2 linked regions of the Homo sapiens genome follow. The protein of the gene in region 1 interacts with the protein of each later gene in a pairwise test. Each region holds a gene or a part of one and is shown in the gene's direction. Other genes may lie near its edges.

Region 1 (7,025 bases):
GTTGTAAGAACTAAAGGACATTACCCACTACTGATGCCATCGTTTTACGGCTGAGCAAACTGAGGCTCGGTGCAGATCAACCACTTGCCCACATGGCTCCTACTCTGCTAAGCTGCCGGGGATGTCCTGTGTCATCTGAGGGCCTTCCCTGCCCAGTCCTCCCAGGAAGCAGCCTTTGATTCAAATCCCATCCTGTTGAAGGCTGGGCGCAGTGGCTCACGCCTGTAATCCTAGCGCTTTGGGAGGCCAAGGCAGGAGGATCCCTTGAGATCAGGAGTTCGAGACCAGCCAGACCAACATGGGAAAATGCCATCTCTACTAAAAATACAAAAATTAGCTGGGTGTGATGGTGCATACCTATAATCTCCGCTACTCAAGAATCACTTGAACCCAGGAGGTGGAGGTTGCAATGAGCCGAGATCGCGCCACTGCACTCCAGCCTGGGTGACAGAGCAAGACTCTCTCAAAAAACAATCCCATCCGGCTGGGTGCGGTGGCTCACGCCTGTAATCCCAGCACTTGGGGAGGCTGATGCGGGCGGATCACGAGGTCAAGAGATTGAGACCATCCTGGCCAACATGGTGAAACCCTGTCTCTACTAAAAATACAAAAATTAGCTGGGCGTGGTGGCATGTGCCTGTAATCCCAGCTACTCGGGAGGCTGATGCAGGAGAATCACTTGAACCAGGAAGTCAGAGGTTGCAGTGAGCCGAGATCGCGCTACTCCAGGCACTCCAGCCGGGCGACAGAGCAAGACTGTCTCAAAAAAAAAAAATCCTGTTGGAAAGTGAGGCAAGGCACAGGGTGGAGCTGGCCCCAGAGCATCACTCTCCACCTCTGGCCTGCCTTGCCCTGCCCTTGGGTCATCTGGAACCTCAGCAGTCACAGGACTGCCTTCTGTGTCTCCCTCCAGAGCTGCCCTCCTCGGAGCACCTGAGTGTGGCAGATGCCACCTGGCTGGCCCTGAACGTGGTGTCCGGCGGTGGCAGCTTCTCCAGCTCCCAGCCCATCGGCGTGACCAAGATCGCCAAGTCAGTCATCGCCCCACTGGCTGACCAGAACATATCCGTGTTCATGCTGTCCACGTATCAGACAGACTTCATCCTGGTGAGCTGACCATCACAGACACGCCTTGCACACTCATGCCCGCCTCTGACACACTCACTCCCATCTCCCACCCCTTGCAGCCTTGCCCTTCCACGCTATTCCAGGGTGGGGGCAGAGTCTCAGGGTGAGAGGTCGGTGCCCCAGACCCACATCCCCCAGGGCCACCAGGCACACACGGCCTCAACTTCTTGCCCCTAGGTGCGCGAGCGGGACCTGCCCTTTGTCACCCACACATTGTCATCAGAGTTCACCATCCTGCGGGTCGTCAATGGCGAGACCGTGGCAGCCGAGAACCTCGGCATCACCAATGGCTTCGTGAAGCCCAAGCTGGGTGAGCTGGGGGCGGGGGTTTGTGCAGGGGAAACCTCACGAAGTTACCAGGCCCAGCCGCAGACCAGCCTTACTCTCAGCACGGGCTTCTGCCCACTGAGCATGAATGGAGTGCCAGGCAGAACGGGATGCAAAGGGCCCAGTGTGGTGGCTCATGCTTGTAATCCCAGCACTTTGGGAGGCCGAGGCAGGCAATTCACCTGAGGTCAGGAGTTTGAGACCAGCCTGACCAACATGGAGAAACCCCGTCTCTACTAAAAATACAAAATTAGCTGGGTGTGGTGGTGCATACTTGTAATTCCAGCTACTGAGGAGGCCGAGGCAGGAGAATCACTTGAACCCAGGAGGCGGAGGTTGTGGTGAGCCGAGATTGTGCCATTGCACTCCAGTCTGGGCAACAAGAACAAAACTCCATCTCAAAAAAAAAAAAATGTGATGGAAAGGTCCTAGGCAGGCCTTGCTGCCGTGTCTAGCAAGGGTGGTGGACGTGCATGCAGACAGCAATGGCCAGAGGCCACTCCTGCTGCAGCCCAGGTGTCAGGGTGGATTTCCCTGGGCAGGGACTGTGGTGCTGAAGCCTGGAACACAGGTAGGAACGGAGCCAGGTGGTGCCGGTTGGGAAGGGCATCCCAGGCAGCCAGCACAGCATGTGCAAAGGCCCAGGGGCCTGAGGGTGAGATGGAGAATCAGGACGGTGGTAATTGGTGGTAGAGGCTGGAGAAGCAGCGGTGAATGAGTCTCTTGGGGCCTGCAGCTGAGCCCTCCCCAGCCCTCTTCCCAGGCCCTGCACCCACCAGAGCTGCTGCTTTCAGTCCCAGCCTCAGTGCCTGACATCTTTGTGCTCTTACAGTCCAGAGGCCAGTCATCCACCCACTGTCCAGCCCGAGCAACAGGTTCTGTGTCACCAGCCTGGACCCTGACACGCTGCCTGCTGTTGCCACACTCCTCATGGATGTCATGTTCTACTCCAATGGGTAGGGCTGCCTTGGGCATGAGGGGTTGCAGGGTGGGCCAGGGAGAGGCATGGCTCCGCCTAGGAGTCTTAGTCTGACGGGGGAGGCTTTGCTAGGAGCTCATCTGAGGGAAGAGACACAGACCTTCCCTGGAGCTAGTCTGAGCAGAGAGACATGGACCCACCCTGGAACTAGTCTGAGGTGGGAGACATGGACCTGCCCCGGAGCTAGTCTGAGGTAGGAGACACAGACCCGCCCCAGAGCTAGTCTGATGGGGGACACATGGACCCTCCCCAGAGCTAGTCTGAGTGGGGAGACACAGACCTGTCCTGGAGCTAGTCTGAGGTAGGAGACACAGACCCACCCCGGAACTAGTTTGGGGTGGGAGACATGGACCCGCCCTGGAACTAGGCTGAGGGGGAGACACAGCTCTACCTAAAAGCCCCAGTCTCAGGGGTGAGACATCCTACCCTGGGAACCCCAAAATTTGGTGACGCCCCAAAGACTCATTGGGAGCTGTAACAAACTCCCCACTCCCCACTGAGCTCCGAGGACAGGCCCAGTCTGTTGAGGAGCTGAGAACTCAGATTTTTTTCATTTGGTGAACAACAGACATTGTGTCACTTCCTCAGCAGATTTTGTAAAGTTTAGGCCAACACGAGGTGGGGCGGGGCAGGGTCCAGCATGCTGACAGTCACCACAGCCTGTGCCCTGAGATGCAGGCAGGGGCCGGTGTAACCTGCGTGGGAGGCCGGCCGGGCCTCCAGTACTGCAAAGTGTAGCACCCGCCTTTGTGAATGCGGTGAAATCATCCCCGTGGCATAGCGAGCAGGATGAGAAGGACACTGGCCCAGGGTCACCCAGGTGGCATCAAAGCCTGGGCAGGGCCCAGCTTCCCTGGGCTGGTGTGAATGGGGCAGGGGCCACAGGGGCCCCATCTTTACCAGCTGCCTCTGGTCCCCAGAGTGAAGGACCCCATGGCCACTGGGGATGACTGCGGCCACATCCGCTTCTTCTCCTTCTCCCTCATCGAGGGCTACATCTCCCTGGTGATGGACGTGCAGACGCAGCAGAGGTGAGCCAGGCCCTGGGGTGGACGTTCAACCCAGGGTGGGCCCCAGGGTCTGGGGGGACTATGTGATGGCACATCACCCACTTTGTCTTTTATTTGTTGTTGTTTTTTTTTGATACGGGGTCTCGCTCTGTCGCCCAGGCTGGGGTGCAGTGGTGCGATCTCGGCTCAAGGCAACCTCCACCTCTCAGGTTCAAGCAATTCTCCTGCCTCAGCTGGGACTACAGGCATGTGCCACCATGCCCAGCTAATTTTTGTATTTTTAGTAAAGACAGGGTTTTGCCATGTTGGTGAGGCTGGTCTCAAGCTCCTGACCTCAGGCAATCCGCCCGCCTCAGGCGTGATTTTTTTTTTTTTTTTTTTAGACGGAGTCTCGCTCTGTCGCCCAGGCTGGAGTGCAGTGGCACTATCTCGGCTCACTGCAAGCTCCACCTCCCGGGTTCATGCCATTCTCCTGCCTCAGCCTCCCAAGTAGCTGGGACTACAGGCGCCGCCACCACGCCTGGCTAATTTTTTGTATTTTTAGTAGAGACCAGGTTTCACCATGTTAGCCAAGATGGTCTGGATCTCCTGACCTTGTGATCTGCCCGCCCCGGCCTCCCAAAGTGCTGGGATTACTGGCATGAGCCACCGCAACCAGCCTGATTTTTTTTATTTTTATTTTTGTTGAGACAGGATCTCTCTCTGTCACCCATGCTGGAGTGCAGTGGTGCAGTCTTGGCTCACTGCCACCTCTGCCTCCCAGGTTCAAGTGATCCACATGTCTCAGCCTCCTGAATAGTTGGGACTACAGGTGCCTGCCACCACACCTGGCTAATTTTTGTATTTTTATTTTATTTTTTTTTAATATTTATTTACTTTTTGAGACAGGGTCTCACTCTGTTGCCCAGGCTGGAGTGCAGTGGCGCGATCTCAGCTCACTGCAACCTCCACCTCCCAGGTTCAAGTGATTCTCCTGCCTCAGCCTCCCGAGTAGCTGGAACTACAGGCGCACACCACCATACCCTGTTTATTTTTGTATTTTTTGTAGAGACAGGGTTTTGCCATGTTGGCCAGGCTGCTCGTGAACTCCTGACCTCAAGTGATTCACCCACTTTGGCCTCCCAAAGTGCTGGGATTACCGGCGTGAGCCACCGCACCTGGCCAATTTTTGTATTTTTCGTAGAGATGGGGCTTCGCCATGCTGACCAGGCTGGTCTCCAACTCCTGACTGCATGTGATCTGCCAGTCTCGGCCTCCCAAAGTGCTGGGATTACGGGTGTGAGCCACCACGCCCTGCCACTTTGTCTCTAATAAACCCTCACCATAGCACTTCATCATAAGTAAGCTGGTCCCCCAGCTCAGAGAGGTGCAGGGGTTGTCCGAGGTCCACTGTGGGGTGGTGGCAAAGTGGGGATTTGAACCGCAGCCCCGGTGCTATTTCTCCCTCAGCTTGTGCTCTGGACCTGGGAAGAGGTGTCTAGACCAGCCTTAGCAAGGGTTTGGGGAGGGGCTTGTTACAAAGCCCAGCCTGACATCACCCTCCCCATCCGCCTCCCCTCAAGACGAGGAGGCCGCCGGGCGAATGGGTCCAGGGTGTCTGGAAGGGATTGTTTTTGGGGGGCCCTGAGGTCTGCCCAACCCTGCCTGGCCAGCCCCATGCCTCGCTCTGGCTGGTGCACCAGCACACCAAGGAGGGAGTGCAATTCACATCAGCCTCGGGGATTCTTCTCTCGCTCCTTTTGAAGGTTTCCTAGTAACTTGCTGTTCACAAGCGCATCCGGAGAGCTCTGGAAGATGGTCCGGATTGGAGGACAGCCCCTGGGGTTTGGTGAGTCCTGGGGGGATTACATGGGGAATTGAGGGAGCTGGCATTGCTGAGCCCATTCACATACGTTGTCCGCAGTGACTCGGCCCCTGCTGGGGGGTACAGATGGGGAGACTGAGGCTTGGGGAGCCTGAAATTTCTGTTGCTCACTGGTGTGTGGCAGCTGTACACAGGCCTCTTGGGGAAGTGCGGAGCAGGCTTCAATCGGAGTGCTTTTATTTTGCCCCCTCTTGAAATTTAATATGTTGCTTATTATTAGAAAATTAAGCAGCTGGGCGCGGTGGCTCGTGCTTGTAATCCCAGCACTTTGGGAGGCCGAGGTGGAAAGATCCATTGAGCCCAGGAGTTCTGTACCAGCCTGGGAAACATAGCGAGGCCCTGTCTCTACCAAAATTTTTAAAATTAGCTGGGCATGGTGGCTGGCGCCTGTAATCCCAGCTACTCAGGAGGCTGAGGCAGGAGGATTACTTGAGCCTAAGAGTTCAAGGCTACAGTGAGCCATGATCATGCCATTGTACTCCAACCTGGGTGACAGAGCAAATCTTTGCCTCTAAAAATAAAAAAAGAGGCTGGGCGAGTTAGCTCGTGCCTGTAATCCCAGGTCTTTGGGAGGCCGATGCAGGTGGATCACCTGAGGTCAGGAGTACCAGCCTGGCCAATATGACGAAACCCCATGTCTACTAACAATACAAAAAATTGGCCAGGCACAGTGGCGTGCGCCTGTAATCCCAGCTACTCAGGAGGCTGAGATGGGAGAATCGCTTGAACCCAGGAAGCAGAGGTTGCGATGAGCCAAGATCGCTCCATTGCACTCCTGCCTGGGCAACAGAGCAAGACTCTGTCTCAAAAAATAATAATAAATTTAATTTAAAAAAGAATAAATTGGGGCTGTGATAAAAATTAAAGAGAAAAAAAATCACTCCTTATTTCCACAGCTCAAAGATAATAACTGCTGGCAATTTTTTAACATGTTTTCTTCACGTAAATACATGTAATTGTCACATATCTCCCAGAGAGTCTGACACCCAACACTTTACTCCTAAATGCCTCGCCTTTTCCATCCTGGGAAGAAGCACCGGGCAAGGTGGCTTACGCCTGTAATCCCAGCACTTTGGGAGGCCGAGGCAGGAGGATCACAAGGTCAGGAGATCGAGATCATCCTGGCTAACACAGCAAAACCCTGTCTCTACTAAAAATACAAAAAATTAGCCGGTCGTGGTGGCAGGCGCCTGTAGTCCCAGCTACTTGGGAGGCTGAGGCAGGAGAATGGCATGAACCTGGGAGGCGGAGCTTGCAGCAAGCCGAGATGGCGCCACTGCACTCCAGCCTGGGCGACAGAGCGAGAGTCCACCTCAAAAAAAGAAAAAAAAAAGAAGAAACACTTTCTCCTATATAACCACAATGACAGGATTCCACAGGAGAAAATTTTCAGTCATTCCCTAAGACTTAGTCTTTCCTCTGTTTCCACAGTTGTCCAGACAACGTCTTTGGTGGATAGCATTTTTTTTTTCTTTTTGTTTTTTGTTTTTTTTTTTTTTGAGACCGGATCTTGCTCTGTTGCCCAGGCTGAAGTGCAATGGCGCAGTCTTCGCCTCCTGGGTTCAGCCTCCCAAGTAGCTGGGACTATAGGCACGTGCCACCACGCCCGGCTAATTCTTGTAGTTTTAGTAGAGATGGGGTTTCACCATGTTGGCCAGGCTGGTCTCGAACTCCTGACCTCAAGTGATCCACCCGCCTCGGCCTCCCAAAGTGCTGG
Region 2 (7,025 bases), on another chromosome or scaffold:
CCTTGGGACCAGCGGGGGAGGCACAGGTCGAGGGGTTGAGTTAATTTATAACATTTAGAAAGGAATTAGGCATACCTTTTCGTCAAAGTCAGGGGCAGGAAGAGAAGCCAGATGTAGGGTCAGAAGATTGTTGATGTGGACATGAGGCAAGATGGTGGCACTTGTAACAAGCCGTGGTTCAGAATAGTTGCTGTCTGGCTGGCTGTGCCTAGTGATGTATGAAATATTGAAGAGTGAATTTTTGGTTGAAGGTGGTGATGCAGAGAAGGAACCAATAAGAACTGGCCCTTGTTTTCCTGCCCACTCACCCTGTGACCTTGGACAGATCATATTCTCTTGCCTCAGTTTCCCCATCCATAAAATTAAGAAATTGGATGAAATTATTTCTAAAATCTTTGCTCTCTGAAGGTGGCCATGAAGGAGATTCTAGATACTGCATAATTATCCGCAAATGTCCTGATCTTTCATGAAGTTATTTCATAAAGCACCCTGAACCTTTTCAGGATAATTTCCCTTTGACCAGAGTTAAGATGAAAATATGATTCAGTCAATTAAGTACATTAAGGATTGATTATTCATTTTACAAAGAGATACATCACTTTACCAAAAAATTCTTTTGAATGGTAAGATGCCATGATGCATTTGAAATAACCCGTTTTGCAAAAATATGTTCATCTCCAGCTCTTCGAGAGCATGTAAAAGGACGAACATTTGCAGAGGTGAAAGTTTAGTGTGACATTAAATCCCAGCATCGCTCTTTACCTGCTAATTTGCCAGTTAGTATTTCACATCATTTAAGTTTCTGCTCAAATGTGATTTCCTTGGGGAGTTCTATCTAAAAATAGTTCCACCATCAGTCTCTGTCCTCTTATCCTGTGTTATTCTTTATACCAGATGTTTTATCAGATATTTGTCTCTTTCTACCACTGGAATGCGAGATCTATAAAGATAGAAATTATTTTATTCATGCTGTAGTCCTGGTACCTAGAATAGTGCCTGGCATATGAGAAATGTTCAGTAGATGTTTGTTGAATGGATGGATGAATCTCACTCCATTTCAACCTCTAGCAAATAGACGTTGAATCCAGAAGAATTTCCAGGATTCTTATTTGGTGATTTCTAGGGTCCAAGGACTATCAACTGGTGACGTGGTCCCGGGATCAGACCTTGAGAATGTGGCGGGTGGATTCCCAGATGCAGAGGGTATGTATGCAGTGCTATTGTGGAGAAATGTACCTGAATCCACCAAAAAGTGTAAGATTCAGGATTTGCGGAAATTAGAGGTTACAGGATAAACAATTTTTTTTTTTTTTTTTTTTTTTTGAGAGTGCGTCTCACTGAATCGCCCAGGCTGGAGTGCAGTGGCACGATCTTGGCTCACTGCAACCTCTGCCTCCCGGGTTCAAGCGATTCTCCTGCGTCAGCCTCCTGAGTAGCTGGGATTATAGGCGCCCACCAACACACTCGGCTAATTTTTGTATTTTTAGTAGAGACGGGGTTTCACCAAGTTGGCCAGGCTAGTCTTCAACTCCTGACCTCAAGTGATCCACCTGCCTCAGCCTCCCACAGTGCTGGGATCACTGGTGTGAGCCACCTTCCCCGGCAGGATAGACATTTAATACATACTTACTGGTTGGCTGAGTAGCTGGTGTGTACCACACCAAGGCTTTGAGGTCTTTAAGAACCAACTTCAGTATTCAGCACTTTAAGGCCAGAGAGCCTCTAAATGTCTTTCCCCTCCTTATTCTAGCATAAGATAGTATGGGTAGCTCCCTGAGTATGTGCCCTGTGGGTTCATTTCTTTCTCTTCTAAATGGGCTAAGAAGCCTACCCTTGTACGCTGCAAATGCTTGGAGGCTTCTACATCTATCAGCAACACTGCTTTTATGAAGCTGTTTGTAATTTTTTCCCGATAAATGATATCTGTTTCTTACATGAACCACACACAGTAGTACCTGGCATGAGCTGCTTTGGTGGCCCTTGCTCTGCTCTGCCTTATCACAGGGTTCTGTCCTCTCCTCATTTGATGGCTAAATTTCTTGACAGTGGGAAGGTGTCTCACTTGTATTGGATCTCCCACAGCGCTTGGTACATTGCTTTGCACAGAATGAATAGAAAATACTGGATAAAAATTTCAACACTGCTTAGTATGAAGTCACTCTTGAGCAGTTTGATCAAATCTCATTACCTTATTGCATTTTCAATCTGTTTTTTCCAAAAGGTACAATTTGCACCAAATGCCTTGAGGTTATGGTTTTCGTTTTTTTTTTTTTGAGATGGAGTCTCTCTCTGTTGCCCAGGCTGGAGTGCAGCCACGTGATCTTTGCTCACTGCAACCTCTGCCTCCTGGGTTCAAGTGATTCTCCTGCCTCAGCCTCCCGAGTAGCTGGGACTGTAGGCGTCCGCCACCATGCCTGGCTAGTTTTTGTATTTTTAGTAGAGACGGCATTTCACCCTCTTGGCCAGGCTGGTCTCAAACTCCTAACCTCAGGTGATCCACCTGCCTCGGCCTCCCAAAGTGCTGGGATTACAGGCATGAGCCACTACGCCTGGCCGGTTATGATATTTTTGCTCCTGGATTAGCTGAATAACTCCATCAAAGCTTGGAGTTTAAATTAATTTTTTTTCTGAGGCTTGCATAAACTCTGAACATGATGAAAAAATTTCCAGTGTTGAATAATAGAGTCTGTTATCCCTGGTGTTTAACCAGGGAGAGTTGGCAATGGGTAAAATCTATTTTGATTATGTCAGCTCTTGGCTGACACATCCCCATCCTTTGCCCTTCCCATTTTTAAGTCAGAACTCTTTAATCAGACATGACAATCATTTCCACGGACTTCTCTAGAACTACATCTTCTACCCTTTGTTGCAGCTTTGTGCAAATGACATATTAGATGGTGTTGATGAGTTCATTGAGAGTATTTCCCTTCTGCCGGAACCTGAGAAGACCCTGCACACTGAAGATACAGATCACCAGCACACTGCAAGCCATGGGGAGGAAGAAGGTAATTTGTCAAACTGATGTCTCAGGTAAGGTGCCACTCTACGCATTGCAGAGTTGTGGCAGATACCCCAGACCTGTTCTCTGTTTCATTTTCAAAAATGCTTTCCAACATTGAACTTCTCTCTCCTGCTAGCCCTAAAAGAAGATCCCCCTAGAAATCTCCTGGAAGAGAGGAAATCAGATCAACTGGGGCTGCCTCAGACCTTGCAGCAGGAATTCTCCCTGATCAATGTGCAAATCCGGAATGTCAATGTGGAGGTACTTAGTTTAATCAACTGTATCTCATGTTTGCTGATGGCAGTTTGTGGGAGAGGGAACCATTTCAGCAATGATTTCAGTTAGCAAATAGCTTTGCAGCTTTAACAGAACTCTCTCTGCTTGCTTTTTTATTTCCTGGGTTTTCTGGCCAGGCGCGGTGGCTCACGCCTGTAATCCCAGCACTTTGGGAGTCTGAGGTGGACAGATCACTTGAAACCAGGAAGCCAGGAGTTTGAGACCAGCCTGGCCAACATGGTGAAACCCTGTCTCCACTTAAAAAAAAAAAAAAAAATTAGCCTGTAATTCCAACTACTCGAGAGGCTGAGGCACAGGAATCACTTGAACTTGAGAAGCAGAGGTTGCAGTGAGCCAAGATCGCACCACTGTCCTCCAGCCTGGGTGACAGAGCAAGACTCTGTCTCAAAAAAAATAAATAAAATAATTAAATAAATAAATAAATAAATAAGTAAATAAAGAGATGCAGACTTTCTTTCTACCCCTATTCTTTTCTCCTAAGATGAGCCAAAGGAGAACCTGATGCTCGTGTGCCTTAGCTCCTCCTTAGATGCTCCAGCATCTCATTTTACTGTAGAGGAAGATACTTAGGCCCTGGAGGCTTAGTGATTTGGCAGAGGTTGCTGCTGAAGTTGGGGACAGAGTTGACTTGGGAAGCCAAACCTCCAGCCCGTCCAGGGCACTCTGTGCTGTGCTGTGCTGTGCTGTGCTGGGCTGTGCCATCTTCTCTCACAGGCTGGCCATTTCCTGGTAATTTAGATTCACAGTAAGAAGGCAACCAAAACTTCTTTGTTTGCTTAGCCTGTGGAACAGTTACTTTTTTGGGGGCAAGTATTGAAAGTCTTTGCTTCAGAAAATTGAGTATCTCTCCAGAAAGGAGTTTTAAAGCTTGATTAGTTTTTCCTTTACCCAAATATGTGCTGTTACATAACTATCTCATGTGGCTTTTAAAACAAGTCTGCTGGCCAGGTGCGGTAGCTCACGCCTGTAATTCCAGCACTTTGGGAGGCCAAGGTAGACGGATCACAAGGTGAAGAGATCGACACCTTCTTGGCCAACATGGTAAAACCCCGTCTATACTAAAAATACAAAAATTAGCTGGTCATGGTGGCGTGCGCCTGTAGTCCCGGCTATTCACGAGGCTGAGGCAGGAGAATCGCTTGAACCCAGGAGGCAGAGCTTGCAGTGAGGCCGAGATCACACCACTACACTCCAGCCTGGCGACAGAGCAAGACTCCGTCTCGAAAAAAAAAAAAAAAATAGTCTGCTGTAAGTGGTTTTAGCCTCACTTTACAGCTGAGGAAACGGAGACATCAAGAGAAGAAATGTCCAAGGTCAGCAGCTATTTGGTGGAAGAAACAACATGTGAATCCAGGTCTCCAGATTTGCCACATGTGGTTCTTTTCTCTTTACTCCAGCTGCTGTCTCTAGTTGGCAACACAAGAAATGAAAAGATATAAAGGATTCTTTGCTTAATTAGTGATCTATATCAAGTCAGTTTATACTCCCTTTGTCCCATTTGAGGACAGTGTGGATACCTAGTGATCTAGTTTAAGATCTTGATTCCTTTCTTCGAGAGTACTTTAAAAAAATTATTGAGATATAATTCACACAGTATAAAGTTCATCTTTTTTTTTTTATTGAGATGGAGCCTTGCTCTGTCCGCTCAGACTGGAGTGCAGTGGTGCTACCGTGACTCACTGCAGGCTCTGCCTCTCGGGTTCACGCGATTCTCCTGCCTCAGCTTCCCAGATAGCTGGGATTATGGGCGCACGCCACCACGCTCAGCTAATTTTTTTTCGTATTTTTAGTAGAGATGGGGTTTTTGCCATGTTGGCCAGGTTGGCCTCGAACTCCTGATGTCAGTTGATCTGCCCACCTTGGCCTCCCAAAGTGCTGGGATTACAGGCGTGAGCCACTGTGCCCAGCCAAAATTCCGCTTTTTAAAGTATATAATCTGGCTGTTGTGGGTATATTCACAAAGTTGTACAGCCATTACCATTGTCTGATTCCAGAACATATTCATCATTCCCAGAAGAAACCCCATACCCATGAGCAGTCACTCCCTATTTCCCCTTCCCTCAGCCCGTGGCAATCCCGAATCTACTTTCTTCCCCTATGGATTTTCCCAGGAGCACTTTTTAAGTTGAGTCTGGTATTTAACTTCTTCCTGCTTTATTTTCCCATCTCAAAGTAAATATAACAAGTTTCAGTCTACCCCACAGCTTTGGGAGGGAGGAAGCTTTGTTAAAGTCAGAATACTTTGAACTTCGTGGTGGCTCATGCCTGTAATCCCAGCACTTTAGGAGGCCAAGGTGGGTGGATCACTGGAGGTCAGGAGTTTGAGACCAGCCTGGCCAACATGGCGAAACCCCATCTCTACCAAAACACAAAAAGCAAAACAACAACAACAACAACAAAACAAAGATTTGCTGGGCATGGTGGCCTGTAGTCCCAGTATTTGGGAGGTTGAGGTGGGAGAATCACTTGAACCCAGAAGGTGGAGGTTGCAGTGAGCTGAGATTGTGCCACACTGCACTCCAGCCTGGGTGACAAAGTGAGACCCTGTCTCAAAAAAAAAAAAAAAGAATACTTTGTGTTGGGAACAGGCCCCCTGAAATCTGGCCATAAACTGACCCTCTGTGTTGTTTGTCTTTGTGTAGTCTGCAGATGTGGATCTTGACTCCTGCAAGAAGTAGCTCACCGTGACAAAGCTGCCTTTGCTTTTATCACTTTGCAAATCAAAGAAGGGGGACATGTTGGGAACAGGCCCCCCCCCCCCCCAAAATCTAGCCATAAACTGGCCCCAAAACTGGCCATAAAGTCTCTGCAGCACTGTGACATGTTCATGATGGTGGTGATGCCCACGCTGGAAGGCTGTGGGTTTACCGGAATGAGGGCAAGGAACACCTGGCCCACCCAGGGCAGAAAACCGCTTAAACACGTTCTTAAACCACAAACAATAGCATAAGCAATCTGTGCCTTAAAGACATACTCCTGCTGCAGATAGCTAGCCACAGCCCATCCCTTTATTTCAGCCCATCCCTTTGTTTCCCATAAGGAATACTTTTAGTTAATCTATAATCTATAGAAACAATGCTTATCACTGGCTTGCTGTGGATAAATACATGGGTAAATCTTTGTTCAAGGCTCTCAGCTCTGAAGGCTGTGAGACCCCTGATTTCCCACTCCACACCTCTATATTTCTGTGTGTGTGTCTTTAATTCTTCTGGCACTGCTGGTTTAGGGTCACCCCGACCGAGCTGGTCTCAGCAACTTTGAGCTTATTCCATTGGTTTGAAAATTTTAAGAATCTGGTATGAAAATTTAAGAATCTTTTTGAAAATGAATTGTCTTCCACACACATTTGTCTTTGTAGACTCTTTCCCTTCATTCAATTACCAGGAACATGGAGCGTTCAGTTAAATGTGCTTGCATCGAAAGACGCTTTATGGTTTGTTTCTACAGCAATTGTGGATTTGTCTCTTGCAGATGGATGCGGCAGACAGGAGCTGCACAGTGTCTGTGCACTGCAGCAACCATCGTGTCAAGATGCTGGTGAAGTTCCCTGCACAGTACCCAAACAACGCCGCCCCTTCCTTCCAGTTTATTAACCCCACAACCATCACATCCACCATGAAAGCTAAGCTGCTGAAGGTGGGGGTCTGGGTTCCCAAATTCTCCTTGCTGTTCTGCATCATTGTCTAGATGGATTAGTAAAGAAGAATGAAAACTCCAGTAGATGAGA

What was found. The genes of interacting proteins can lie anywhere in the genome.
Region 2: the proteins of CASTOR2 (region 1) and WDR59 interact in binary tests that used the Homo sapiens proteins (3 or more experiments, as listed by UniProt).

What each region holds. Positions count from the first base shown.
Region 1 is NC_000007.14:75,016,685-75,023,709, forward strand, and holds part of CASTOR2 (cytosolic arginine sensor for mTORC1 subunit 2), read left to right. Parts: intron 1-913; coding exon 914-1,107; intron 1,108-1,305; coding exon 1,306-1,438; intron 1,439-2,287; coding exon 2,288-2,411; intron 2,412-3,354; coding exon 3,355-3,465; intron 3,466-5,189; coding exon 5,190-5,272; intron 5,273-7,025. UniProt on the Homo sapiens protein: Functions as a negative regulator of the TORC1 signaling pathway through the GATOR complex. As part of homodimers or heterodimers with CASTOR1, directly binds and inhibits the GATOR subcomplex GATOR2 and thereby mTORC1.
Region 2 is NC_000016.10:74,912,107-74,919,131, reverse strand, and holds part of WDR59 (GATOR2 complex protein WDR59), read left to right. Parts: intron 1-1,123; coding exon 1,124-1,203; intron 1,204-2,872; coding exon 2,873-3,005; coding exon of another isoform or gene 3,006-3,030; intron 3,031-3,137; coding exon 3,138-3,262; intron 3,263-6,769; coding exon 6,770-6,934; coding exon of another isoform or gene 6,935-6,985; exon of another isoform or gene 6,986-7,015; intron 7,016-7,025. UniProt on the Homo sapiens protein: As a component of the GATOR2 complex, functions as an activator of the amino acid-sensing branch of the mTORC1 signaling pathway. The GATOR2 complex indirectly activates mTORC1 through the inhibition of the GATOR1 subcomplex.